7 separate regions of the Homo sapiens genome follow, and regions 1, 2, 3, 4, 5 and 7 are each linked to region 6. The links come from fine-mapping of genetic effects on gene expression. A gene starts in region 6. Each other region holds a variant in brackets. All regions are shown on one strand. Distances are from middle to middle. Region 1 overlaps CLMN (calmin). Region 2 overlaps CLMN (calmin). Region 3 overlaps LOC107984710 (a long non-coding RNA gene). Region 4 overlaps CLMN (calmin). Region 5 overlaps CLMN (calmin). Region 6 holds the start of CLMN (calmin). Region 7 has its middle 42 kb from the start of LINC02292.

The links. PIP is the estimated chance that this variant, and not a neighbour inherited with it, causes the effect.
Region 1: its variant is fine-mapped to the expression of CLMN in whole blood (TOPMed, PIP above 0.99).
Region 2: its variant is fine-mapped to the expression of CLMN in whole blood (GTEx, PIP above 0.99).
Region 3: its variant is fine-mapped to the expression of CLMN in whole blood (TOPMed, PIP above 0.99). The same link has a PIP of 0.9 or more in T cells, blood mononuclear cells, monocytes, monocytes after LPS and monocytes after Pam3CSK4.
Region 4: its variant is fine-mapped to the expression of CLMN in nasal epithelium (TOPMed, PIP above 0.99).
Region 5: its variant is fine-mapped to the expression of CLMN in whole blood (TOPMed, PIP above 0.99).
Region 7: its variant is fine-mapped to the expression of CLMN in whole blood (INTERVAL, PIP above 0.99).

What each region holds. Positions count from the first base shown.
Region 1 is chr14:95,192,141-95,196,140 of GRCh38, reverse strand. It overlaps CLMN (calmin), which reads left to right. Exons shown (of 13, transcript NM_024734.4): 11 at 1,545-1,605; 12 at 2,222-2,292. Among named protein-coding and RNA genes, the nearest start is that of DICER1-AS1, 36 kb to the right of the region's middle. The variant A/G (reference allele first, on the strand shown) is at 1,794.
Region 2 is chr14:95,183,964-95,187,963 of GRCh38, reverse strand. CLMN (calmin) reads left to right here. Exons shown (of 13, transcript NM_024734.4): 13 at 1-4,000. Among named protein-coding and RNA genes, the nearest start is that of DICER1-AS1, 28 kb to the right of the region's middle. The variant A/G (reference allele first, on the strand shown) is at 2,176.
Region 3 is chr14:95,351,777-95,355,893 of GRCh38, reverse strand. The region is part of intron 2 of LOC107984710 (a long non-coding RNA gene); the gene reads right to left. Among named protein-coding and RNA genes, the nearest start is that of LINC02292, 24 kb to the right of the region's middle. The variant G/A (reference allele first, on the strand shown) is at 2,002.
Region 4 is chr14:95,289,912-95,294,028 of GRCh38, reverse strand. All of the region lies in intron 1 of CLMN (calmin), which reads left to right. Among named protein-coding and RNA genes, the nearest start is that of CLMN, 28 kb to the left of the region's middle. The variant C/T (reference allele first, on the strand shown) is at 2,440.
Region 5 is chr14:95,259,794-95,263,896 of GRCh38, reverse strand. The region is part of intron 1 of CLMN (calmin); the gene reads left to right. Among named protein-coding and RNA genes, the nearest start is that of CLMN, 58 kb to the left of the region's middle. RefSeq lists enhancers at 1,980-2,606, 3,808-4,103. The variant T/C (reference allele first, on the strand shown) is at 2,227.
Region 6 is chr14:95,317,552-95,321,551 of GRCh38, reverse strand. CLMN (calmin) reads left to right here and starts at 1,644. Exons shown (of 13, transcript NM_024734.4): 1 at 1,644-1,841. The coding sequence starts at 1,760. RefSeq lists a silencer at 1,664-1,923 and enhancers at 2,554-2,633, 2,654-2,773.
Region 7 is chr14:95,369,040-95,373,156 of GRCh38, reverse strand. No RefSeq gene overlaps it. Among named protein-coding and RNA genes, the nearest start is that of LINC02292, 42 kb to the right of the region's middle. RefSeq lists enhancers at 1,223-1,775, 13-3,080, 3,032-3,531, 3,532-4,033. The variant G/A (reference allele first, on the strand shown) is at 2,129.

The DNA.
Region 1 (4,000 bases), 130 kb after region 6:
AGGTTGACCAGACTTCACTTTATAAGCATCTTAATGACTTCAAGCATATCCACCTTTCCACCAAGGAGACCATTAATGTCTGGCACGTGGAAGCTGGACATCTCATTAATATTATGGCTTCTTCCACAATTCCCATTCCAAGGAAGTAGGGATGCTTGATTTAGCTTGGGAGAAGGAGGGAGCAGGGAGGATAATGAGATTTAACTGATCTACAGGAATCTCATAGCACACCTCTGCTCTGTCACTCCAAGGCCACCAGATGAGCCAGATTTGTCCCAGGGAAAATGTGTAACTGCTGAAAATCAGAAGACCCTGGTCTCTCCCCTCTCTCATCGTCACAATAGTCAGTCAGTGTTGATCAAGCCCTTACTGTGCCCAGGAACTTCACATTCATTTTCTCATTCATTCTCACGTCACCTATAGACACATTGGTGGGACTGTGCCTCATATGGCAGACAAAGAAGGTCAGGGGGCCAGGTAACTTCCCCAGCTTAGGGAGTCTTGGACTCAGATGTGTCCCACTCCACATTCCACATTCTTTTTGTGCCCCCTTGTTGCCTGTGATGATGTAATACAAGCTGCAACAGAAAACTATTGAGGTATGCATTTGGGGAGGGGTAGGGAGAAGCCCATACAGACAGAGCCAGAGGAGTTGCTGGCAGGTGCCTGGCTTTCCACCTCCCTCTGCCTTGCTTCTGTGCCTGGACTTTGGGGAAACAGAGGCAGGGGGAGGAGGGCCAAGGCACAACAGAAGGCTGCTGCCCACTTGGCCTTTGACTCCCAGCGTGCCTGTCCCTGCCCCTGGGTGTGACTGTCTAGCAGTCATCTATGATCTTCTCATGTCGCTGGGCTCTGCTGTCAGTGCAGGTGAGCACTTTGGACAAACAGTGCAGGGGATTTGCCCAACTGCTCAGCTTCTCCCTAAGCAGATTAATTCTCAAAGAGTCCTTGAGCAGCCACTATGCAATGGAGTCTGCTAGGCCTGGGGACTTCAGGAGAGGGAGAAAGAGGTCAGCCACAGGGGTGATTCAGGCGGGGCTCCATCCTTCAAGGAAATAGGACGTTACCCTCCATTCCGCTAGGACTGGGTGGAATGTGAAAAGTGCGAGGCAAGCATTCCCACTTGTACATTTTGGACCTCAGACGCAGGTAGAGAGAGTCAGGGCAGCCTGGTCTAGGCCCAGGTCTGACTAATTGCAGAGAACCTCTGGTGAGTCCCAGCACATCAGGATGCTTGGGTTACTTCCTGCTCCAAATGCTTTGATTTTTAAGAATATGTGCCTTGCTTTCTATTTAAAATCCTGACTTTGATTTTTCTTGTAGATGAGGGCCCAATGTGTGTATCACTAATATCCATCCTATTTGTAAGCACTGTCCAACCAAAGTAGGCATGTTAGATATAAAATCTGTCATTTCTGTCCCTGGCTGTGAAGTTGTCGCTTGCCTAAACCCATACGTGGAAACCCCAGGATGGGGGTGACCGTACAACTGAGCCATGAAGAGCTCCAGGTGGTACCAATTCAAAACATGTGTTTGTTTTTCAGGACTAGTCACAGTGACTCCAGCATTTACCTTCGACGACATACTCATAGGTCTTCGGAATCGGTTAGTATGTGAATTTCTTCTCTTTCCGCACGGCCCCTGCTAATCAATTCCTTTCCATCCTTCCTCCTCCCCAGCCCAGAGCTTTGAAATTACTGGCATGCAACAGCTATACTTTTGGATAGAAGACAAGCAGATTGGAACCTTATCATTAAGCACAGTCCGATCGGATATCCGGTTTGGGCAATAAG[A/G]GATGTAAATAAAGTGAGGATTTTAAAGCCCAAAGGCCTCCTTGCTATAAAAACGCACCCAAAACGCCTCACCTGGACCCCGCGCGCACCCAGAAGGATCACGTTCAGAGACAGAGGTGCAACATGAGTCAAGGTCCGATGGACAGTGGCACGTGCTCAGTAGCAGATGTGTTAGAACCCGGAGCAGCACACCCCAATCCGGGTTCCGGGTGGTGGGGTCTCTCGCACTCACAAGGGAGGGGCTTAGGGGAGGAGGTAGAGGAATGTATATTGTTTAGCACTTTGATTTTGGATCTAGACGCTGGCGGTATTGAGAAATGCCCGGCATGCTCGGCTTTGTGTGTTTAAAATCGTTTTATCTTCTGTTTCAGAGATTTCATCTTTACTAATTGGGTTGCGGGGGCTTTTGTTTATAAATTTCACTGTAGGATCATTTTAGCTATGTTCAGTTGAGGAACGCAGCAGATCTGGATGACAGAAGAAACCGAATATTAACCAGGTTGGTGGCTTTACTTCAGGTTTTGTGGGGGTAGTAATAAAATGTTTTTACATTCTGCAGCCTGCCTTACAGGGGTGGTTATTCTCCCACTGCTTTGTTGATAACAGTATTAATAATTTGGGATAATGCAAGAAAATAACTATTCCAGAGAAAATGATGTAAATTGAATATGAGTAGAAAGGAAAAGTAGATATTAATTAACACTGATGGTTAGGGCCCGGTTCCGAAAATGAGTCAGTTTAAAGACGGGTCTGGGTTCTGAGCCTGCAGCTGTGTTTAAATGAGTGGTATAGAGTATAGGGTGGTTTAGTGGTATAGGGTAGTTAGCAAAGGGACGGCCAGGCAGGAGAAGAGGTGGTGGTCTTGTGAGGCTGTGTGGCCCCTGTGAATGCTGTAGCCCCTGACGCCTGTCCATTCTCTGTTGCCACTGCAGGTACAGTACTCAGAAGCTTACTGAGCTGATTTTACAGTTTTATGGCATCAGAGCAGACATGAAGAGGGAAAGCAAACATGCCAGGATGTCTATGAAAGTATTTCTTGCTGTCGGAGAACTGTTGGCCTGGCCTAATGTTGCTGAATTGCTGGAAACCTGCCCATTTAAAACATAGGAAACCAGAAAAACGTCTCAAATTCTTACAATTCTGAGACGTCCCCATTCCTGTTGAAGTCATAGAGTTGCTTTATTATGTTTTTATTTTTAAAAAATTTTATTTACTCGCCACAGATTTGAATTGGCTTGGAAGGATTTAGATTACTGGAATCGGAAGCCTCTGTCTGAATATTACCCAACACCCAAGAGTGTGGTCATTAGAACCCCATCCCTCTGGCTGCTAAAAAAGAAGCAAGACAGCTCCTTTCCCCTGCCATGAAATGGAAATACTAATTCAAGTTTTCCACCAGGCTGGATATGCTCATAGGAAAATAATCCTTTTTGCTCTTATGAGATAGAGGCGTTGAAAATAGAACCTGTAAAGTTGAGAAATGCAGTCGTGTTTTCAGTTGTCTACATTGAGCATTTATTACCTTTATAATAAAAAATATGGTTTAGGCTGCGCATGGTGGCTCACGCCTGTAATCCCAGCACTTTGGGAGGCCAAGGAGGGAGGACTGCTTGAGGCCAGGAGTTTGAGACTAGCCTGGGCAACACAGAGAGACCGTGTCTCTATAAAAAGTATATAGTTTAACTTGTTTCTGTGGACAGCTTTTTAAAGAAGACCATCATGTGGGTATTTATCATTCAGTATGTAGACTGTGGCAGATGTTTAATCCCACCCTGCCCCTCGCTCCTGCTATCAGGAGATAGTTCTGGGACAAGTGGTTTTAGCCTCTCGTAATCTCCATTACACCGCACGAAACCACCCTAAGAGGCTTACACTGCAGGCTTCTCTACATGCAGCTCCAAGCAGAGGCCCCAGCCCCAGGCAAAACCTTCTGGGCTTCCCTATGATCCGCCAGGCAAAACTGAAATGACATTTTAACACTACCACCTATAAAATAAAAGCAGGAAGGTAAATCTGACTGAAATCAAATCTAGTAATTATTTTAAAGGTAATATTCCAAAGCCAAAACAAAACTGTGGGGAATGGGAGAGGTCTTTGTTTCTTTCTGATAGATGATTTAAAATGATCTGCTATTAGGGACACTTCATCCCTTAGATGACCTATGGGGTCCCCTGCGTTACTAACAAACAGCAGCAAGCGATCAGTAT
Region 2 (4,000 bases), 130 kb after region 6:
TACTCATGTGGTTTCAAAAATGGTGTCCCATCTGGGCAGAAGTCCCCATGAGCACTTGGCTTGACTGGCAAAGGACACCTTTTGCCCCTTCCTCCAGACATACCCAGCTCTGAGCTTGGACAATGCTCGAGGAACAATGAAAAGGCTAGATTTTAACTCCTAATTGCCCTCTTTAGCCAAGTGCCTCTGTGCAATGCACAACTGTAGGACCATATCCAGAGACCCTGGTCTATACTCAGTGTGCCCGAGTCCTGACCGCTGAGCAGGCAGCCTCATCACCCGTGAGTATTTAGACTTTCATTAAGTTGCTTCAACCTTTGCTGTGCCTGGTGTCCCTGAGTTGGAGCTGCTCTGATTTCTCCATGGAGTAGGAGCACAGTGGTCATCTGGCTGCATGGGAAGGACAGGGGACCTCAGAGCCAATAAATGCCCTGGTCTTCAGCCCCATGTCTCACCCCATCCCTCCTATTCCAATCCCCAAGCCTCTCCTGGAGGCCACAGGGCATCTCTGCTGACCACTCTGTGGCCTCCCCTCTGCAGGCATGTGGTTTTAGGATCCCCCTCCCTGCTCACTTTTCCATCAGTTCCATTCCTGCATAAATAGGTTGCTAGCTCTTGCTTACTGTTCTCTTCTGTATTCTGTGTTCATGGTTGTATTAATATAACTTTCATTCCTCTGCTCCTATTTTCATGGGGTTTCATGAGGGAAGAAACAGGCTCATGTGTTCAGTATACCATCTTGATCCATAAACCCCATTTGAGTTATCTCACAGGTTGCTTAGGGGGCTTGCTGCTCTGACTGGTTTGTGAACGTGCCCTGAGTCCAGCTGGGACTGCAGCAACATCCATCCTGTTGAGCTGTGGTCTGCTAAGTGATTTTGTGTAATGCTGTGCCAAGTGCAGGAGAGGGATACATAGCATGGCTAAGCTCTGCTTGAATGCCATGATTAGTTATTACCTTCCTTCCTTCCCCCTGGTTTTGCTGCCTATTGTCAGTAAATGATCTTAGATCTCCTGCCTCCCCAAAGATATAGTCTATGTGGTGGTCTGGGTTCTAGGTTTTCTTTACCACCCTTGCTTCACTTAAGAAACAGAAAACTGGCTAGGCACAGTAGTGGCTCACACCTATAATCCCAGCCCTTTGGGAGGCCAAGGCAGGAGGATCGCTTGAGGCCAGGAATTCAAGACCAGCCTGCACAACATAGCAAGACTCCATCTCTACAAAAAGTTAAATTTAAATTAGTGGTGGCATACACTTATAGTCCCAGCTACTCAGGAGGATGAGGCAGGAGAATTGTTTGAGCCCATGACTTTGAGGTTACTGTGAGCTATGATCCTGCTATTTTACTCCACCTGAGTGACAGAGCGAGACGCTGTCTCAAAAATAAAGAAACAAGTAGTCCACACAGGTGTTTGCCAGCAAACAAACAGCGCGGATTCTCTGTTGAACGTGGCCAACATTGCCTCGTCGAAGTTTGTATCTTGCCATAGTTGATGATCAGGTGGTCGGGGCTTCCTGGTCAGACCTGACCTTTGTGGGGAGATGTTCTCCCACCAAGGCTCAGAAGCAGGACACTCTTGCTGCCCCTCGGGCAGCCACCCAGAACATGGGCGTCTCCATTTCTGAGGTTCAGCATAGTTCCCCCCACCCTCTTCCCATGCAGTGCATGCCTGCTCTTTATCAGGATGGAACAGAGGGAAGGCAGAGGCACTGGGGGCAGCCTGTGTTGTTGATCTCTGTAAGTCACAGACTGTTCGAAAACCTCAGGAATTATGTAAGCGTTCAGTGCCTCATTTAAGAGATGAAAAACTGAAGATTAGAAAGAGGAAACGACTAGTCGCCCTGCTAGTTGATGACCTCCAGATAGCCATCTTCATTCCCAGTTAAGTTTACTACAAAACCACAGCCTCAGCTGCTGAAGCTAACCTCCCTACCCACCATCGCTAGGGACTCAGAACACCATGGAGCTCATCTCTCCAACAAAAGTCAGAATTAGCAAGTACAGATGTGTCTTACGAAAATGTCAGAATCCATCATGGCTGCTTTGGTGAGGAGCTGTTCTCCTTCCGTGGTCATGCCATTGGAAGGCAGTTGTATGACAAGAATGCTTTCACATGAGCTCCGATTTTCTTAACTCTCCAGAAGGACTTCAGAAGCCTCTGGAGTTTTGAGAC[A/G]CGGCCTCTCTCTCCCTTCTGCTTGGAGACACCTTCCTGGGGGTCTCCACTGCATTCCCCGCCGGTATTCCTCTGTGGAGCCTTGCGCCCTCAGGTCCCAGAAATGGGCTGTGTGGGAGCTTCCAGTCAGCCTGGTATCTCGGGACCTTCTCAGCCAGGAAATGAGACTGCACAAAGCCCTGTGAGGCCCAGCTGTGTTATTTCTCCTTCCCCGACATTGCATAATCACTGCTGACACAGCATTTGGGGAAGATTTAACGTCTTGGGCCAGCAGCTGCCATCTGGAACCATCACCACATAGCAGGTTGTTCTGTCCCATCCAACTGATGAGGGGGCTGCCCTAATGACAAGGTCCAGGACCTGGGTTGGGTGGTGGAAGGCTGGGAGCTGGAGTGGGCATTATTGTGCTTCTGTGCTGAAAATTGCTATGGCTCTTTTCCCCTAACAGCCAGCGTGGGAGAACCAAACATGAGACACAAGCATCCCCTTGAGCTCCACAGATCTTGCGCCTTGCTCTCATCAGGCATTTCCTTGGAAAACAGCAGTCAGCAGCTCATGGAAGTGAGCCCGGTGCACAGACTTTGCATGGACTTTGCACAGGTTCCATTTCCATCGTGTGCAGACACCTGTATCTTTGGGCTCCACGTGAGCACCTGCCCTCTTCACTCTGATTTTTTTTTTAAGAGACAGCATCTTACTCTGTCACCGAGGCTGGAGTACAGTGGTGTGATCACAGCTCACTGCAGCCTGAAACTCCTGGGCTCAGGCAATCCTCCTGCCTCAGCCTCCCAAGTAGCTGGTAGTACAGGTGCATGCCACCACGCCCACCTAATTTTTTTATCTTTTATAGATACAGGTCTCACTGTTGCTCAGGCTGGTCTCGAACTCCTGGCCTCAAGTGATCCTCCTGCCTTGGCCTACCAAAATGCTGGGATTATAGGCATGAACCACTGTGCCTGGCCTTCACTCTGATTTTTCTTAAGAGTCCTACAGGACCTTCAGGTCTTGTCACTTCTCTACCATTGTGTGTGAGACAGGGCATGGGGTGAGCTTGGTCAGGTGTGGGTCAAAAGCCTGGAGACTCAGAGCTGCTGGTTCCCCAAGAGCCCACAAAAGTTATCAGAGTTTCTGAGCTGAGTGTTCTGCAGTTGCCAGACCCCACAATGCTGGGAATACTGGCTTCTTTGTGTTTAGAACTTGTTCTGAGAACCTTGATGAGAACACATCAAGCAAGCAGTTCCTCCCAGCCAGGGCTGGAGCAACATGCCAAAAAACATTCTTGTCTATGGGAAAAAGACAACCAGTATTTTGTACTGTTTGACCAAGTTGTTTTTAAATATACACATGCCTCAACAATCCACGGCCTCAATCGCACTGCTAATTTGTTTAAATCCCTGACACTCAGATGTCAAGAATAGCTTCATCTAGCAGTGTTCTCTTTAAAGGAACCCTTTTTTTTGTTTTCATTTTAATCACTGCCTTCTTCTCTGGGAGGTATTGTGGGCTAGAGAAAGAAGTCAGGTTTGGGAGTCAGCCAGATTTAGATTGGAGTCCCAGCTCTGTCACCAGATCTCTGGGTGATCTTGGCAAACTAACTTCTGAGCTTCTGTGCATTATAGGCATTCAGCACATATTTGTTGGATGAAAAATACTTTTCTTGAAAGTTTATGAAGTTGTAGGATGCCCAGCAGCCCCCTTTTCTCTATTTCCTTCCTCTTGAAGCAAGCGTTGACTATACCTCTTTCCCTAACCCTTAGTGTACCATAGCTTCTTCCAACCTCTCTCCAATCCATTACTTTTTTCTGAGCTACCCTGTCTCAAATCT
Region 3 (4,117 bases), 34 kb before region 6:
TGAGCACCAGGGGGTGCCAGGGGTGATGTTAGGAACTTTCAATATATTATGTCCTTTAGGCCCTACAGCAGTCTGGAGATTCAATGCAACCTCATTTCACAGGTAAGGAAACTGAGTCCACAGAGGTGAGGTACATTGCCCAAGGTCATGATACTCCTAAGTGGCAAACCTAGGATTTGAACCTCGGTCAAGTCAGACTCTGTGGCCCATCTCCATTTCATTACATCATACCATCTCCTGGGAAGTAAACAAAAGAGGTGTTTGAATGGAAACGCACAGACCTCATTCACCAGAGAGTCTGCCAGAGCCACTGATTCTGGCTGTTATACAATTCTCACAAGTATGATTATTCGATCTCCTGGCTCACAGACAATGGGAAACATCAAATAAGTAGGAGAGAAGGCTACAGAAGGAAGCATACAGTGTGACAAGTAGCTATGGAAGCCAGGGTTCCAGGTACAGTAAATGGTGGGGTGGCTTGAATCTGACCAAGCCTCCTGATTGTAACCATTAAAATCTCTGAATAGCAAATTTTTAAAAAACCATTTGAAGGCACTGGAATGCAATTCAGAACTGGTGGGAATACAACTCTTGGGAAAAAAAGAAAGCATATAATTTTATGATTTTCTCAAAGAAAAAGCTTTTGTTTCATTCTCTCCTTTTTAATTTTTTATTTGTATATTTTTGGGGGGTACAAGTGCAGGTTTCTTCCATGCATATATTGCATAGTGGTAAAGTCTGGGCTTTTCCTATACACATCATCTGAAGAGTGAACATTGTATCCAATAGGGAATTTTCTATCCCTCACCCCCATCCCCACCCTCCCATGTTTCATAATCTCCAATGTCTACTATTCCACTCTGCATGCCCCTGTGTACCCATCATTTAGCACCCACTTATAAGTGAGAACATGCAGTATTTGACTTTGTGTTTCTGTCTCCTCTTGGCTTTTCAATGTCACTGATACCTAATTTTACTTTATTATTTCCTTTCTTCTTTTTACTTTGGACTTGATTTGCTCTCTCTTTTCTTGTTTCCTAAGGTAAAAGCCTAGGTCATTGCTTCGTGACCTTTCCTCTTTTTTTTTTTTTTTGAGACGGAGTCTGTCTCTCTCACCCAGGCTGGAGTGCAGTGGTGCCATCTCGGCTCACCGCAAGCTCTGCCTCCCAGGTTCACACCATTCTCCTGCCTCAGTCTCCCAAGTAGCTGGGACTACAGGTGCCCGCCACCACACCTGGCTAATTTTTTTGTATTTTTAGTGGAGACAGGGTTTCACTGTGTTAGCCAGAATGGTCTCAATCTCCTGACCTCGTGATCTGCCCACCTTGGCCTCCCAAATTGCTGGGATTACAGGCATGAGCCACCAAGCCTGGCCCTTTCCTCTTTTTTAATGGCAATTCATGCTATGAATTTTCCTCTGAGCACCACTTTAGCTGCATCTTGCAAGTACTGATAATGTCAGTTTTTATTTTCATTCACTTTGAGTTACTTTTGATTTCTTCTTTTTTTAATTTTTTTTATTATACTTTAAGTTCTAGGGTACATGTGCACAATGTGCAGGTTTGTTACATATGTATATATGTGCCATGTTGGTGTGCTACACCCATTAACTTGTCATTTACATTAGGTATATCTCCTAATGCTATCGCTCCCCTCTCCCCCCACCCCAATTTTTAAATTTTGTGGGTACATAGTAGGTGTATATATTTATGGGGTACATGAGATGTTTTGATATGGGCAACTTTTGATTTTTGCTTTGGCCCATGCATTACTTAGATGTATATTATTTTGTTTCTAATATTATGTCATTTTCCAGATGTCTTTTGGGTATTGATGTCTAATTTGTGAGCACAGAGCAAATTTTGTAAAGTGGGGGTTCATTTACATTTATCAAGACTTGTTCTGTAGCCCAGAATATGGCCTACTTTGGTACATATTCCATGTGCGTTGGAGAGGAGTGTGTATTCTGTTGTCCTTGGGTGAAGTGTTTTATAAATATCA[G/A]CTAAGTCACGCTGGTTGATAGCGTGCCATCTGTTGTTTCCTTTTCCTCTTTTTCTGCCGTCTTTTAGGTTGAGCTTTTTTTTTTTTTTTAATGGAGTTTCGCTCTTGTTGCCCGGGCTGGAGTATAGCGGTGTGATCTCAGCTTCGCTGCAACCTCCACCTCCTGGGTCCAAGTGATTCTCCTGCCTCAGCGTCCCAAGTAGCCAGGACTACAGGTGCCTGCCACCACGCCCAGCTAATTTTTGTATTTTTGGTAGAGATGGGGTTTCACCATGTTGGCCAGGCTGGTCTTGAACCCCTAACCTCAGGTGACCCTCTCATCTCAGCCTCCCAAAGTGCTGGGATTACAGGTGTAAGCCACTGTGTCCGGCTGAGAATTCTTTTATGATCCTATTTTATCTCTTGTGGGCTTCTTGGCTACCCCTCTCTGTTTTCTTTTAGTGGTTGCTTTAGGGTTATAGTACACATTTTTCCCTTATTACAATCTACCTTCAAGTGATATTATAACACGACATGTGCTATATGAAAACTTTATAACAGTATACTTCCATTTCTCCTCTCCTGGCCATTGTTCTAATTTGTCATATATTTTTACTTCTATGTATGTTATAAACTCCACCTTACAATATGTTAGTTGATAGTAGTTTTACTTTTAATAATTACCTTTTAAAGGATTTATTTATTTATTTATTTATTTATTTATTTATTTTACAGAGAGGGTCTTGATCTGTCACCCAGGCCATCTTCCCACTTCAGCCTCCCAAATATCTAGAACTAGAGGTGTGCACCACCACACCTGGCTAACTTTTTTTATTTGTGTTTATTTTTGTAGAGACAAGGTCTTGCTATGTTGCCCAGGCTGGTCTCAAACTCCTGGCCTGAAGCAATCCTCCTGCCTCAGCCTCCCAAAGCACTGGGATTACAGGCATGGACAACATTGCCAAGCCGTTAAAGGGATTTTCTAAAAGAAATAATATATTTTATATTTACCAACATACGGTATTTATCACTTCTAAAGCTCTTCACTATTTTAAACAGACAGACCATACCAAGTATTTCTAAGGATGGAGAGCAATGTAGGGTGTCCAGCACTGCTGGTGGGCATGTAAAATGGAACAGCCACGTTGGAAGCACAGTTTGGTGGTTTTTATAAAAGCTAAATACATACCTACATATGATTCAGCCATTCCATCCCTACATATTTACACAAAAGAAATGCAAGCACGGCTGGGCATGGTGGCTCATGCCTGTATTCCCGACACTTTGGGAGGCTGAGGCGGGCAGATCACTTGAGGTCAGGAGTTCAAGACTAGCCTGGCCAACATGGTGAAACCCTGTGTCTACTAAAAATATGAAAACTAGCTGGGCGTGGTGGTGGCACCTGTAGTCCCAGCTACTTGGGAGAGTGAGACAGGAGAGTCGCTTGAACCCAGAAGGCAGAGGTTACACTGAGCCAAAATCCCGCCACTGCCCTCCAGCCTGGGTGAAGGTGAGACTGTGTCTCAAAAAATAAAAAAAGAAGGAAAGAAAGAAAGAAAGAAAGAAATGCCAGCATATTTCCACACAAGGATCATTACATGAATGCTTATAACAGTTTTATTTTTAATAGCTAAAAACGAGAAAAAGCCCAGGGGCCCATCAGCAGATGAGCAGATCAACAAACGGTGGTGCATCTATATAACAATAAAAACAGGCACGTAGTCAAGCAGGGATGCCTGTGGCACCCCGCAACAACATGGATGAAGTGCGTAGCTATCATGCTGGGAGGAAGAGCCAGAAAAAGAAAAGATGCATGAAATTCCAGAAAATGCAAACCAATCAGAAAGCAGAGAGAGAGGAATGGCTTTCAAAGTAGCCCAAGGAAGCTTTTGGGGATGGTGCCCTTTGTATAGTCATAAACCTATGTCAAAACTCCTCCAGGTTTACATTTTAAATATGTGTGATTTATTGTATGGCAATTATACATCAATAAATCTGTAAAATCTATTGAATGGGCTTAAAGCAGATCAGAAGTGGCGGAAGAAATGAGCATGACCTTGAAAAAAACACACGATGTAATGATCTGAACTGAGAAAATAATATTGAAAAAAATAAGGAAGAGCATCTCAGTAATTAG
Region 4 (4,117 bases), 28 kb after region 6:
CTCCTCCTCTTTGGTGTCACCCTCCAGCCAGGCAGTGGGGCTGGCACCTTCCCTGCTGGCGTTTGGTAAGTTTTAGCTAAAACGCTAAGTGAGAGACTGAGGAGGGAGTGGGAGGGAGTTTTTCCTTGTTTTCTACTTCATGTTGCCTCATTCCGTACCACGTAGAACAACACCAGACTTGGTTTCTAGAGACTGCAGGTTTGTGTGATGGTCCCGAGACCCTTGGGAAAGGAAGGAGCCTGGACCCCATTCTCAGCCTCACAGGACAGCTCAGCCAGGGGATGTGTTGTTGCCTCAGATTTATTTTTCCATTTCACAAGCCAGAGAGGGCTGCGGGGCGGGGGTGGGTGGGAGACAGGGGGCGCAGTACACCCACATGTCTCTGCCCTTCTTATCCAGTGCTGGGGTCTGTGCAGCTCGTTCCTGCCTGCTGGGAGCAGGTGCACAGAGCCCATTCTCCTGGTCTTGAATCCATAGAGAATGACAGTGAAGATCAGAGGCTGACAGACTGCCTAGGGAGGCCTCAAGATATGTATGGTTATTTGATTTGATTTAAAAACAAGTCAGAGAAAACTTGAAAATAGGGAGGAAGGGAGGAAGGAGGTATTGAGAGAAGGAAGGAAGGAAGGAGGGAGGGAAGGAAGGAGGGAGGGAAGGAAGGAGGGAGGGAGGAAAAGAAGGAGGGAGGGAGGGAAGGAAGGAAGGAGGGAGGGAGGGAAGGAGGGAGGGAAGGAAGGAGGGAGGGAGGAAAAGAAGGAGGGAGGGAGGGAAGGAGGGAGGGAAGGAAGGAGGGAGGGAGGAAAAGAAGGAAGGAGGGAGGGAAGGAAGGGGGGGAAAGAAGGAGGGAGGGAGGGAAGGAAGGAGAGAGGGAAGGAGGGAAGAAGGGAGGGAAGGAGGGAGGGAAGGAGGGAAGGGAGGGGAGGGCAGGGATTTTCCATCTCATTTACCCTGACATAGTTATTGTCATTTTAATTTTTTTATTTCTAACCATCTCCCAAATACATTCCTAGTGGTTCTCATGGCCATGGACGGCTATGTGCAAAATTGCATTCTGCTCTGTGTCACTTACCCACTTCTTTCTCCTGCTCCGTGGTTACCCCTGGATGATCATGTTTGTGGCCGGTTGGATGTGCTGGGGTGCAATTAGCCATGTCCCTGGAGGAGCAGACCCACACCGGGCACCCGTGCTCTCACAGGCCTGCGCTTTTGGAGCTTCATCTCGCCCTCCCTGAGCTGGTTCATGTTAATTTAATCAGGCTATGCTGATTTCTCTCCAGCTCCCAGCAAATCCTAGCTCGTGGGAAAGCTGGTGTTTTTAGTGGGGGCACAAGCATAATGGTCCCCACCCTCCCCTACCACCAGCCTGGGAATCTGCAGAGCAGGTGAAGTCAGAGGGTACCGTCGGTCCCCGTGAGTGTGCAGGGCAGAGCTTGCTTAGGCTTTTGACCTGAAGTTATTTAAATTCAAGGACATTTCTTAGAGGAAGGACAAAAATCAATAAGGGAGACAGTAAGGCTTTTACTTACACCTCCTGGAGGGCCATGGAGCCTGTGACCCAAGATGCAGGGGGTGGAGGTGGGGGTGGGGGTGGGGGTGGGGGACCCTTGGGGGGCAGATCTCATTACTGGTGTTTGTTTGTGTTGTTATTTTAAACCATCCTAGGGGAGCTTATGAAATCTCTGGAGACTTTTAAAAATAGCATAGTTTCTGGTTTTAAAAGTAGTACATGTCCACTGTATAAAATATGGAAAAATACAAAATGTTCCAAATGATGCCACCCAGAAATGACTACCATTTACCTTTTGATGCATTTTCTTTTTGGGCTTTTTCCCTGTGAATGTGTCGAGTTTTAACATAAATGGTGTAGAGGGTGTTAAGGACGTGTAGTTGTGTGGAGTGAGCCGCTGAATTCTCTCCATGCCTCAGTCCCCCTATCTGTGAAATAGGCCCAAAAGTCAGACCTTCCTCTCGGGCTTGCAGTGAGGCCAGATGAGGACGTGGGAACACGTCAACCCTTGGCACAGTGCCAGGAACACAGTCAGTTCTCAATAAATGCTTGTCATTGCCATTAGCAATTTCAGTCCACCATGTATATAATTTTGGATCCTATTTTTTTTCACTTTGTGTTCTGACCTCAGAATTTTCCCATGTTTTAAATGTTGGGTAACCAGCATTTTTGGGGCTGCATGCGCATTCTTTCTGTGGCTGACTTAACTGCTGTTGGCCATCCACGGCTTCTCCAGCTTTGCATGCTTTTTGGTACCTCCTGCTGAACCTCCTTGCACGTTCATTCTTGTCCCCATTTCTGGTGATCTTAGAGGACAGATACCTAGATGTGGAAATATTGGGTCACAGGCTATGGGAATTTATCTATGGGGCTCTGAATAACGTACGCTCAGCTCACTTTTAAGGAGGAGGACAGGGCTCCCCATTCCCCAG[C/T]GAGGTTTGCTGGGGCCAGTCTGACTCCGTCTCTCCTGGAGCTTTCACCTGGGCTTGGTGTTTATTTGCAGAAGTGATAATCCCCAGCCGCACCTGCAACCTGGAGCTCTGGGGATGAGAAACAGCTCCTGTGGCCAATGATATTTCCAGGAGGATGTGTGTCTGGGTTTTTTTGGCACAGGCAGCATGCGGTCCCAGGTATTAGCCAGCCCCGAGACGCAGGAGCTGCAGGGATGCGGCTCCATGTGGGCGGGATAAATCTGTTTACAGGCCATCGCCATGGCTAGGCTGCCTGGCTCCCATTTCACAGGCGCCTGCAACAGGTGGTTTCCTGGATGGCGAGCCAAGCCCCAGGCAGACAGGAAGGCTCACGCCCAGGCTCAGCTGGGTGGGTGAATGTTGTCATCAGTAACCAGGGACGCTGTCACAGCCCGGGTTCCACTCTGGCCAGCTAAAGCTTTTTCCAAGGTGGTTTCTTTTTAAATTGTTCTTGCCCTTTGGGAGAGGAAGAAATTAAGAATTTGACAGAAGAGCGTGGTCAGCTCGGAGCCCAGCAGGTGCCTAGAAGGATATTAATAATCATAGCAGCATCAGCAGCTGCGTTCCTGGCAAGCACGTGTTTGTGTCATCTCTGCTGCAAGCACAGGAGCTCCATGTCCTTGGTATTATTAGTTATTCTGCGTCGGTATCCCTAGGCTACCACCCTTCATAGAACCAGCATTCATTGAGCACCTACTGCATACCACAGCACTAGGGTGGGGATAGGAATACTGAGAAGCTGTTCTGACGCTCGGGAGCTGAAAGCACCATAAGGAGGTCCGTGGGTTTCCTAGGGCTGCTGTAACAAACTTACACAAAGTGAGCACTTACAAGCAATGCAGATGTGGCATCTCACAGTTCTGGAGGTCAGAAACCTGAGGCAGTCTCACTGGGCTAAATTCAAGGCACTGGTAATACTGCGTTCCTTCTGAAGGCCCCAGGAGAGAATCTGTTGCCTTGCCTGTTTTAGTTTCTAGAGGGCCCTCATATTTGTTGGCTTGTGGCCTGTTCCTCCATCTTCAAAGCCAGCAGCGTCTCAACTCTCTCTGACTCTGTTTCCATCAACTGTCTCTTCTCTTCTGTCTTCTGGATCACATCTCCCTCTGTCTTCCTCTTATAAAGACCCTTGTGATTACATTTAAGGCCCTCCCTGAGACTACGGGAAAACTTCTCCATCTCAAGATCCTTAACACATCTGCAAAGTCTGTTTTTGCCACATAAAGGCAACACACAGACTCCAGGGATTGGGATCTGGACATCTTTGGGGGAGCGTCAAAGTGTGACAGAGTCACAAAGCACCACCACCCAAGAAAGAAGAGTGGGCGGGGCGGACCCAGGGCATCATGGTAAGGGTTTAGCACTAGGACCCATTGCACCTGAGTGGCTTTGCACACTGTGAAGGGCTCTGCAGGTGTCAACGAGAAACAGCCTTGGATTGGAGGCAATTTGTCTTTCATGTGAGGATTAAGGAGCTTTTCTTTTTTAAAGGTTATATTATTTTGAAGATAGAATTCCCAAAAGACATCCCCCAAAGAATGGACACTTTGCCTTGAAATGTTATAGGCTTCAGCTATTGTGTTTGATTCTTGCATGTCTTTAAACCTGTCTTAGGTGGCGATTACACACAAGGAGGCCAACC
Region 5 (4,103 bases), 58 kb after region 6:
ATAACCGACACTCACTGGGCATTTGCTGTGCCAGTCACTTGTGTGAGTTCTTCACAGGCACTAACTCATTTAATCCTCACAACAACCCCCCAAGGTGGGCACTGCCATTATCCCCATTTTCCAGAAAATTGAGGCACAACTTACAAAATGTATCCGAGGTTTCCTTTCTTCTCCCAGCCACCCCCACCTCATCTCTTTGGCTGCTCTAGGCTCTGCAAAGCCTGTCTCATGCCCTTCCAGCTGGAACATCCAGTTATGCTACCTGTGAATTCATATTCCAAGTAACGTTTAGGGCTCCATTGCCAAACTCCTGCATTGAGGTGAAGTGGGCAGATGCCTCCCGCTCCTTTTCCTGGGTCACACCGGAACCCTTTTGCTAGGTGGATGTGGCTACTTCATTCCCTCATCAGTGTCTGGATCTTTCAGGCTTGTAGGTGCCAGACCCCAGTGGGTAATAGGGTTTGGCTGTGTCCCCACCCAGATCTCATCTTGAATTGTAGTTCCCATAATCCCCACGTGCCATGGGACCAACCTGGCGGGAGGTAATTGAATCATGGGAGCAGTTACCCCCATGCTGTTCTCCTGATAGTGAGAGAGTTATCATGAGATCTGATGGTTTTATAAGGGGTCTTTTCCCCTTTGTTTGGCACTTCTCCTTGCTGCTGCCACGTGAAGAGGACGTATTTGCTTCTCCTTCACCTTCCACCATGATTGTAAGTTTCCTGAGGCCTCCTCCGCCATACTGAACTGTGAGTCAATTAAACTTATTTCCTTTATAAATTAGCCAGTCTCGGGTATGTCTTTATTAGCAGCATGAGAACAGACTAATACAGGGAGCCACATATGCGCTGGGCAGTTGGTTTGGGTGGCACAGGCTGAGCCTGGGAGCCACTGTCACTGCAGGGTGGTTAAGAGCTGTGCTCTGAGACCATGGCCTAGTTTTGCTCCTACCTCCCAGAAGAACAAGCTGCGTGGCCTTGGACACATGACTTGACTCTCTGAGGCCAACTTTCTCATCCAGAAAATGGGGAGGCTGGGCACAGTAGCTCATGCCTGAAACCCCAGTACTTTGGAGGTCAAGGCAGGAGGATTGCTTGAATCCAGGAGTTTGAGACCAGACTGGGCAACATAGGGAGACCCTGTTTCTAGAAAAAATACAAAAATTAGCCGGGCATGGTGGCACATACCTGTAGTCCCAGCTACTCGGAAGGCTGAGGTGGAAGGATCACTTGAGCCTGGAGAGGATGAGGCTGCAGTGAGCCATGATCACACCACTATACTCCAGCCTGGACAATAGAGTAAGATCCTGTCTCAAAAATAAATAAATAAATGAAATGGGAAAAAGAGTAGGCCCTACCTTGAACTTACCAAGATTGGATACGATACTGTCTCTAAAGCCCTAAGCACAGTGCCTGCCTGACACATAACAAGTGCTGCAGAAGTGGTAGCTATTTTTATTAGGCATTTCATAAATGTCACGTGGATATCTTTTGGTTGACTCTTTGCTTGTTCTAGATTATTTTTCAGGTCGCTGCTTGCTGAGTTGTCCTCTGGTCACTGGGAATGTATTTATTTTGTTGTTCTTCTGTTGAACAGAACAGCTGGCAGAGTGGTTTTCAGTAGCCAGGCCAAAAACTCAGTGAACCCCAGCGCAGGTACAGGGCTCTGAGAAAACATCAGCTCAGTGAGAGTCCCCTGGAGCCCAGCTCTGAGAATAGCTTTAATGCTTTTGAACAGGTGATGACATCGGGTTGCTGGCTGTCCAAACGATGTGGGGAGACACGTGGAGAGTTCAGATTGATTTGCCAGGATGTTTGGGAGCATTTGGGAATACAGGCGTGGACGCTGGCCCAGCCCCAGCGCCTGTCAGCCAGGCACAGCCAGGCCTTTGATGCGGGCCCTCCTGAGCCCAGAGCCAAGCTGCCGCTTGGAGGAAAAATTTCCAGGACAGGCATCTGGGGGACAAAGCTGCTCGCAGGTTGTCAGGACTCATTCCCTCTGAGTGAGGCTGATGGATACTCATAGAGGCCAGGGACGCAGAAGCCAGTGATGACTTCCAGGTTCTTGCTGCAGGGGGGCATGGGCTGTGGGGATCCCCATGTCATCTGGGGCATAACTGCCCAATGGGCAGATGAGAGGAGCGGGTGGACCTGTGGGCATCTTGGGAAGGCCAGGCTTGGAAGAGCCATCCTTCCCGACAGCAGTTGTGTGGTCTCCAGGTCGCAA[T/C]GCAGAGGCACAGGTCCTCTAAAACTGGTGACTCTCACTGCTGAGAGTGACTGCTCATTCCATTCCATTCCCTGATAAGTGTATTTTCTCTGCAGGGAATATTGCAGCCTTTCTGCACTTCAGCACTATACCTGAGGGCCGTTTTAGATAGCAAGATGCCCAGGAGAAACTACAAAAATGCAAAAACCATGGCAGTAACATGACATTTGTAGCTACAAATCCATTTTAGAGAGTAGACCAGTTTACAAAGACAGAATCCGGGAATTCACCCACTCTCTGAAATGTATTTGTGTCTCCACAATCAGTGCTCGTCTTTCACGGAGGTGCGCAAAGCGGCATAAAGTCTGAGCAGCCAGACGCGCACGTTCCCAGCGGAGGTGAAACGAGGCAATGGGCCTCGGCCTTCTGCTTCAGCTCTCAAACTATAAATAAGTGTCCTTTCCACAGCTTACTTAGTGCCACTTTTTTTTTTTTTTTTGCATTTGTGTGCTTTCTCTCGGTGATCTTGCCGTTTAAAACAGCCCCCAGTCAGAGTCCGGAAGTGCAGAAAGGCTCTGACGTTCCTTGCGGAGAAAATACATGTGTTCAGTAAGCTTCGTTCAGGGATGAGTTACAGCGCTGTTGGCCATGAGTTCAGTGTTAGTGAGTCATCAATGCATATTCAATAAAGTCTCCTTAGACAGAAACACACATGAAACAAGAGTCAAGGGTATGTATTGGTTGGTTGGAAAAAATTTGTAACCAGAGGTTTGCAGGAACCTAATACTGTATTTCCACAAAAACAATGATTCAGTATTCACAAGTCAGGGTTGACCACAACTTCATAGAATATCATACTGTGAATGATGAGAATCAACTGTATTTCATTTGGACAATGGAGATAAACTGGGTTGTGTAGTCACTCAATACCTGAGTCAAAGACACTTCCACCAGGAAGCCTCCCATGGTCACACCAGCCTCCAAGGATCGTTTCCCACCCACACCAACTCACCCCACAATATGTATTGTGTTTACCATTGATTTCACATTTGACATGGACTGTAAGATATTAGTCACACTTCCCACAAGCCTTCTGTTATTGTGTGTCAAAATCACAAGCTCCCTGAAGACTAAGGATGTGTCTAAGATAACGTCTCCACTCATAGCAGGCAATATTGTAAGTGCTTGATTCTTTCAACAAACATTTTATTCAGTAATTTGTTTGTTGGATCCATTCTTTTTTTTTTTTTTAGACAGAGTCTGGCTCTGTTGCCCAGGCTGGAGTGCAGTGGCGCCATCTCGGCTCACTGAAAGCTCCGCTTTCTGGGTTCACACCATTCTCCTGCCTCAGCCTCCCGAGTAGCTGCGACTACAGGCGCCCGCCACCTCGCCCAGCTAATTTTTTTGTATTTTTAGTAGAGATGGGGTTTCACCGTGTTAGCCAGGATGGTCTCGATCTCCTGACCTCGTGATCTGCCTGCCTCGGCCTCCCAAAGTGCTGGGATTACAGGCGTGAGCCACTGCGCCTGGCTTTTTGATCCATTCTTCTAGTGAACCAATATGCAGGACAGAATGAATGAATGAATGATATGCTTACTGAACACCTGCCATGTGCCAGATGCCCACAGGAGGATGCAGAGTCGTGGGTGCTGCAATAGCAGGGAGTGGAAAGGAAGTGCCACCCCTATCTTAGGGAGGGCAGCCAGAGGAATTTGACGAGCAGGTGGAGAAGTGCAGGGAGAGAGTGCCAGACAGCAGGAACAGCGTGTGCAAAGGCCTGGAGCCCCAGGCAAGCAGGCATATTCAGGAGCCACCAAGCGCAAGGGAATAGCCGTCCAGGTGGGTGTGGGGAGAGGAAACGCAGGTGCAGCTGGCCATGCATTTTAATGCTGAAGAGT
Region 6 (4,000 bases):
CACAGGACGCAGAAAGAGATCCTGCTCCTTGGAGTGTGAAATGACCACAAGATTAAGAATCAAGGCAGCAGCAAGGAAGCTCCTGCCTCAAGCCCAAGCACCAAGGAGCCCCTAATGGGGCCTCCACTTCTGTCTCCACTGATCCCACCTTTCCCCGCCCAAACTGCTGTCCCTGTGGGGGTTCCTCTCCTCCTTCTGGGCTCAGCTCCAAGGTCAGTCTTTAGAGACCTCTGCTGCCCTCCACCCGCATTCACAGTTCCTTAACCCAAATTGACTTTCTCCTTTCTGGAGTCCACTTTAGAAATCTCCTTTCCTTGTTTAAGGGCCACACGATAGCCCCTGCCCCAATGGATGACTGGAGGGTAGACTCACCCTCCTTCAGGGCCCTGCCTCAAGGGCACAGGTCTGTCCTTCGGGGGACCTCCATAGTTACTGGGTAATTAGTGAGCAGCCGGGTTTCCGGGATTCATTGCTGTGAACAGAGCAGCGATGCACACAGGCCCATGTGTTTAAATGCCCAGTGAGCCCTGTCCATTTTTTTCCCCCTCTTGGAACACTGAATATTTAAAGCCATTTTCTTTGTGGCCTTAGTTGTCACAGAAAGGGCCCAAGCACTGAGCTGGGAGCAGGGGGCTGGGACTTCCTGCTCCTAAGTCATTCCTCAACCTTGGGCAAATTCGGTAACTGTAGGGTCTCACTTTTAAGGAGTGTAAACCACATGGTGGGCACCAAACAGGATAAGATCCTGGAATTCTCTAGAGTTCAACAGTGGAGGTGGGGAGGGAGGGGACCGGAAGGCCTGTCCTGGCATTTTCAGTAGTCTCCACAGGAAGTTCTGTCCTGGCATTTTCACTAATTTCCAGTGACCCCACAGAGGGTCACTTGGAGACTCAGTGGCCAGAGACCCCACAGCGTACCCCAGCTCCTAGGAGTTGGCCTGCTTCTTGTTCCTTCCTAGAAGCTGGAGTCACATTACTGGACCGGAAAAGGCTCCTAGTATCTAAACCAACGAAGAAGGCCCTTCTTTCACAGCCCCCCCGCACTTTGGAGACTCCCACAACTTTACCTCCACACTAGTTTGCCCCCCGACCCAGGCCCTCGACACTCCCCACGCAGGGCTCCCAGGATTCGGGGATGGGCAGGGCTCGGGTCCTGGTCCCTCCAAGTGGGGGCTGCCTCTCCAGAGTGGACAGGGGACCCGCGGAGGGGGTGTCTTATCCCGGACGGGAGGGAGACGCTGCCTCCTGGACCAGGTACTGGGACCCACGGGCCCACCCCCAGTTGCGTCACCCGGCCCACCGCCCCCTGAGACATCACAATCTGGGGGCCGGGACCCGCGCCTCATCACAGCCGGTTTGTAACCAAACAATCCAACCTACAAACACCCCGGAAAGAAAAAAAACACAAGCTGGCCTGACCCAGCCTCCCGCCCCTGCCCCGCCCCGCCCCGCCCCTCGCCCCTCGCCCCTCGCTCCTCAGGGCCCCCGCCCCCGCACGGGGGAGTGAGAGCGAGCCCGCCGCCCCGCACCCGCCGCCCCGCGCTCGCTCGCGCCAGCCCGCGGCGGGGGCGGCCCCGACCGCGCCGCCCGCCCCTCCCCGCCCCGCCCCGCCCCGCCCGCGCCCGCGCCCCGCCCGCGCCCGCCGCGACTCCAGCTCCGCGGCGCCCTCGCCGGGTGCGTGCCGCTCGCGCGCCCGCCAGCCAGGCTCTCCGCGCCCGCCGCCCGCGCCGCGCTGGCCCGGGCTCTCCCGCCCGCGCTTCATGGCTGCACACGAGTGGGACTGGTTCCAACGCGAGGAGCTCATCGGGCAGATTAGCGACATCCGAGTGCAGAACCTGCAAGGTAACGCAGCCCAGGCTCGCCCCGGGATGGCTGGGCGCTCGGGGGGCCCGGGGCGCCGCTCCGACACTTGGCAACTCCCCCGCGCCGCCCCCGCTCGCCGGCCGCTCGTTGTTCCTGTCACTTGCCTCGAGGTGGGAGGCTGGGGTTGGATACCCGCCCCCAAGCCCCAGGGCGGCCAGCCGCGGCCAGGTTTACAGTTGCCCAGGGGGTGGGGCGCCACACGTGTGTGTGTTGTGGGGCGAGGGCTCGCATTTTCATTAGGGGGACGTCACCACCCCCTCCAGTCACCGCTGCGAGTTTGGAGAAGTTTGTACGTGGGCTCTTGGGGGCGGTGGCCCAGGTTAGGGAGGGGAGGAGACAGTGCGACTCTGTGTGTGTGTGTGTGTGTGTGTGTGTGTGTGTGTGTGAGTTCGCGCACTTCCTAAGTACCTTCGAGGCAAGGGGAATTGAATGGTGGGCGGCGCTTCAGGGGGTGAGTTGGGGAAAGCGGGGCCAGGGGTGCGGATCGGATCGGTGGGGTCAGGCAAGCACCCAACTCCAGCGGCCACTTTGCTTAGGGAGCTGCCCCTCCCCTGCAGGATCAGGACTCTAACTGGGGAGAGGGCGAGAGCCCCACCCTTCCCCCACGCTGGCCCCCAACTCCGACCCTGCCTGGGCACAGGACACTGGGACCAAGGCTTCTACCTGGGAGGTAGCTGAGAAGAGGTGAAAGAGAAACTCCAGTGGTGGAGAGCGGCTGGGTATGGCGGTGCCACACATGAAGTGTGTTTCTCTTTCAAAAGAATTTATTCAATGTGGAAACTTAGAAAGCACAAAAATATTTGAAGGAAAAAAGTCACCCATAATTTCCCCTCCACAACCTATCCACCCAACAGACAGGTGTTCTTCATGGAACTGTATCTCCAGCTTCTTTTTTTTCATATATGGGCTTTGCAGAACTAGACAGAACACCACTTCCGGCCCTTCTTCACCCACATTGACCTGTGCAGGTGAAGTTTCTGTAGCTGCTTCCCCTGCTGGCTTGGGTTTCTAGAGGGTTCAAGGTTAGGAGTGGCTAGGAGCGAGCTGGGAGGCCTGGGCAGAGAGGCGATGGGGCTGTGGGTGCCCTCCCCCAGCCAGGGCAGCGACTTTACTGTTATAGGGTAGGGAGCCCCAGCGCTGGGGGATGGCCGAGCAGTCAAGTTTAAACATTACACCTGATTGAATGTTTCCTGGGAGCCCAGGGTCTGCCCCACCCCTAGGTTGGGCAAGGACAGTGCCGGCAGAGGTGACCTCAAAAGGACTGGGGAGCCTCCTGGGGTGGACACTGGAAACTGAGTTTGCTCTGGGCCGCTCTGATCTCTTCTGGCTGTGATTTGTGTTAAAGGAGGAGGCTTGGGCTGGGATGTTGAAAGTGATCTCTTTTGATAATAAGCCAAGTGCCTGGATCCTGTTGCCTGAGAAGAACTGACATCCTGTTTGGGGGTGGGCATTAGTGTCTTCTGCTGGACTGTGAGGGTGTGAGTGTGTGTACCTGTCTGTCTTAGGCAACCATTGAGTGTTTAATAAGCACATACTAACCAATGCTTCGTGCAACAAGTTCCTGCATTCCTCTAGGATTAGCTCCTGGTTTAGAGAAGATTGATTGTTGTGAAGAGATGCCCCGCAATATGAACATTAGGTTACAACCAGAACGGTGGGAGAAGGCTTTACAGAATAGGGACAATTTGAGATGGGTCCTGGAGGTTGGGTAGGAGTTCACTGAGTAGGCTCCTCTCCCTCAGCTCCCAGTGAACTGTCCTCACTTTTAGGCAAACATCAGTTACAATTTAAGCATCAACAGGCTTTGCCATTAAAAAAATAAATTTTTAAATGTATGTATATGTTTAAATGTGCACTTATTAAGTTCAACAAAACTTTATGTATGAGTACATCTATGTAACAACCACCCAGATCAAGATGTAGATTTCCAGTACCCTAGATGGTCGATTCATCTTCTTTCTCAGCCAATAACACTGCCCCCTGACCACCAAGGGAGCAAACTTGATCCATTACTGAAAGTTAGTTTTGCCGCTAGAACCTGATATACAACTGGATCATACAGTATGTACTCTGGCCTTTTTTTTTTTTTTCCCAGCATTGTGCTGGTGTGATTCCTCTGTGCTCTCGCCTGTATCTGG
Region 7 (4,117 bases), 52 kb before region 6:
GCAGGCTGAGTTGGCTCACATGGAGGTGAAATGAATGGCCCCGAGAGCTGGACGCACTGGTGTCTCTGTGATCACACTCTACTACAAGTGTGCGGCCACCTTCTCCAATCGGCCGAGTATAAAAAACAAAATTAAGACCCGCCCTGATCATTTCCTTCTTGTGGCTACCATATTTGTTTGCTTGGGCCTCGGCAACAAAGTACCACAGACTGGGGGGTGTAAACAACAGAAACTGACTTCCTCACTGTTCTGGAGGCTGGAAGTCTGAGATCAAGGTGTCAGCTGGGCTGGTTTCTGTTGAGGCCTCTCTCCTTGGCTTGCAGACGTCTGTCTTCTCCCTGTGTCCTCACATGGACTTCTCTGCGTGTATCTGTGTCCACATTTCCTCTTTTACGAGGGCATCAGTCCCATTGGATTAGAGCCCACCAGTTTGACCTCATTTTAGTTTAATTATCTTTTTAAAGACCCTATGTCCAGACTGGACACAGCAGCTCATGCCTATAATCCCAGCATTTTGGGAGGCCAAGGCAGGTGGATCACCTGAGGTTAGGTGTTCGAGACCAGCCTGGCCAACATGGCAAAAACCCATCTCTACTAAAAATACAAAAATTAGCTGGGCATGGTGGCGCACACCGTAGTCCCAGCTACTTGGGAGGCTGAGGCAGGAGAATATCTTGAACTTGGGAGGCAGAGGTTGCAGGGAGGTGGGGACAGTCATATTCTGAAGTACCTACATTCACAAGGACTTCATCATATGAATTTGGAGGGGGACATAATTCAGGTCAAACACTAATCCTGAATCTTTTTTTTTTTTTTTTTTTGAGACAGAGTCTTCCTCCATCCCCCAGGCTAAAGCGCAGTGGTGCGATCTTGGCTCACTGCAACTTCTGCCTCCCAGGTTCAAGCAATTCTCCTGCCTCAGCCTCCCGAGTAGCTGGGATTACAGGTGCCCACCACAGTGCCAGGCTAATTTTTGTATTTTCAGTAGAGATGGGGCTTCACCATCTTGGTCAGGCTGGTCTCAAACTCCTGACCTCGTGATCCACCCGCCTCGGCCTCCCAAAGTGCTGGGATTACAGGTGTGAGCCAATGCGCCGGGCCAATCCTGAATCTTTTATTACAAGCCGGCTGGCTAGTCATTTGGTTTGGTGGCCCACATGGGCTGACCTGTGGACAGCAGGGGACCCCCCGGGACAGGCACTCTCTCCCCAGGCATTGCCTTCCCCGCCTCAAACGCCAAGGTCACTCTGGCCATCTGCTGCCCAGAGCTCACTGTGAGCTTAACCCCCACTGGGGTTTTAAAATTTAAATCCCCTCGCAGAATATTATTCCCTGCACCTCTTTCCTATTCCGGGTCCCAAAGAAGGCGGCAGTCATTGAGACCCGGCCATTCAGTCCTCCCACGAGTGAGCTTGGGCTTTCAAGGTGCAGACGATCTGGAGTGGTTTGCACTTGTGTTTTAACGTCCTCCAACTCCAGAGCATTTCCCCGAGCACAGGAGAGGCCTGAGCTCCTTCCCTTCCACCTGCGTCTGCCCCATACAAAGCTCCGTTTGTGTCCCTGCGGCTGAGGAGAAACGGCTACTCCGCGCCACCTCATCCACCGACAGGCCACAAAAGCCCAAGCACGAGGTGAGGCTCAAAACAGGCCAGGCCCAGGCGCTGCCAAGCCAAACACAGAGGAAACGGGTGCGAGCCCAGCAGAGAAACCAGATTCCCCTGGAAATCGCTGCTCCCCGCCGTGTCTGGAAGGCCAGCCCCAATAAAGCGGCTCCGGAAGACCTGAAGGACCCCCATGGCCCTCATCTTGATGGAGATGCCAATAAAAATCTCAGAACATCCAGCCTGCAGGCCCTGTAGGCACTGCCCCGGGGCTGTAAACCCGGATACGAGCAGCTGGGGAGCCGGAGGGAAGAGGCCTGCTCCCAAGAAAGCCCACCAGCCAGCCCGGCCAGGCCCGCAAGTAACCGAGACGCCTTCAGGGAGAGGCAGGCAGGGCAGCCTGGACGGGAGGGAAGCCTGCAGCCGGGGCCCTGCTCCAAACCAGGTCCAAAGCTGTTAAATCCATGGGAACTTCAGGAAAGAGTAATGGCTGCCCAGAACTGCAGGTTCTTAAAGAAACCCGGGAG[G/A]AACCCGCCTCAGGAAGCAGCAACAGACCCTGCGGTTGTAAACTCAACTCGGAGGGCACCTTGGGGACACAGCTGTGCTCATGATAGAGGAGGAAGTGTGTGTGTGTGTGTGTGTGTGTGTGTGTGTGTGTCTGAATCCATGGCAAAGGACAGCCAAGTTATGCATACGTGTGCACTATTTGTGTCTCTGTATCGGGGGTGTTGTGGAGGCATATCCACAAATGTGTGTATTTGTGTGTCTGTAGCATTCTCAGATTTATCAAATAAAAATACAGGATGTCCAGTTAAATTTGAATGTAGGCAAAAAGCAAATACTTTTTGAATGTGAGTATTCCCAAATATTGCCTGGGACGTACTTATGCTAAAAAGTGCTCGTTGTTTATCTGAAATTCAAACGTAAGTGGGTGTCTTGTATTTCTCTAGCAACCCTATGTGTGCATGAATGTCTAAATTCAGAGTGACAATGACATTTGAGATCACAGAAGTGGTCTTTAATAAAGAGACAAATATATATACACACTCATATACTTTGCCTCCTTACACACACATATATAAAATGATACTATAATAGTCCTCAAAAGTTCTCCTAACAGGTGATTAGTCATTCTTTGTAAGAAGAAAATTAGGTGCCTTGTATGGTATGGTTGTAACCTAAATGCATTTAACTTGCAAATTCATCTACAGGAGCTTGCACAGACAGAGGCATAACACATGTAAATGGTGTGGTAATAGCTCCTGCTGTTCCACTCAGAGTTGAGGTTGGGAGACTTGCCTCTGCGCTCCCTCCACCATCTCAGCCCCAGACACCGCCCCAAGGGGAGCACTGGCTATCCAGGCTTCTCTAGGGCTTAAAGTCATACATATTTTTCTACCCTGTGACTCTGAAAGGTAAGCCAGTTCCTTCATTTGGGGCATCCCACAGAGACAGAAATCTGTTTGAAGGGGATGGAAAGAACTGGTTTGAACCTTCCGGACGCCAGAGGAACTGAACATTCAACACAAAGACTTTTTTTTTCCCCTTCAAAAATGGTCTGAGCTTGCAAACTCCCAAACACTAAACATCTTTCAAGGATAACTTATTCAATGGTATCACTACATGCCCCACTTGATGTAATAAACATTTCCCAGGCCATTCCTTAGCCTTTTCCTGGGTAAGGATGTGAAGGACAGGAGTTCAGGAGATGGGTAAGGCACAGGTATGGTGGGTAGGAAGAGGGGCTGTCAAACCAGACTGGGCCCTAGAAATCCTCTAGCTGAGGGATCTCAAACTGGCACCCTGCTCGCCAAGTCTGCCTGGTCAGCAGCGCACGGTCATCTTTAAATGTTTGAATTTAGTGCTTACAGGCAGGGCACGCACCCTCCATTTTCACCCCTACCCTTTACCCTCTATGATCTGAGGATCAGCTGTTTATTATACGTGGGCCGCCTGCCTGCTCCTGCGCAAGACAGACTCCATTCGTGAGGACACTGGGTCCCACACAGAGTGGGGCTCATAGCAAGGCAGGGCAGGAACTCAGGTCTCCAACTCCCAAGCCAGGGCAGGACTCTGTTTCCCCTCCATTCTGCAGCCCTCAGGCCATGGAAGAGTGAGTCCTGCTAGTTGAGAACGCAGAAGTGAGACATGATCCCTCAGTCCATGTCACCTTGGGAAGCCTCCTCAGCCGTGGTGACACTACTCTCAAATCTGAATCTGATCAGGCGGAACTCAAAGGGTTACCCTGATCCTGCTCTGTTTACAGACCTCGATCCCAGCTCCTTCATTTAATTTGGTTTTTGTTTTCCTGGTTTGTTTGCTTGTTTGTTTGAAACAGAGTCTCACTCTGTTGCCCAGGCTGGAGTGCAATGGAGCGATCTTGGCTCACTGAAACCTCCACCTCCTGGGTTCAAGCCATTCTCCTGCCTCAGCCTCCCCAGTAGCTGGGATTACAGATGCATGCCACCATGCCCAGCTAATTTTTTTATTTTTAGTAGAGACAGGGTTTTGCCATG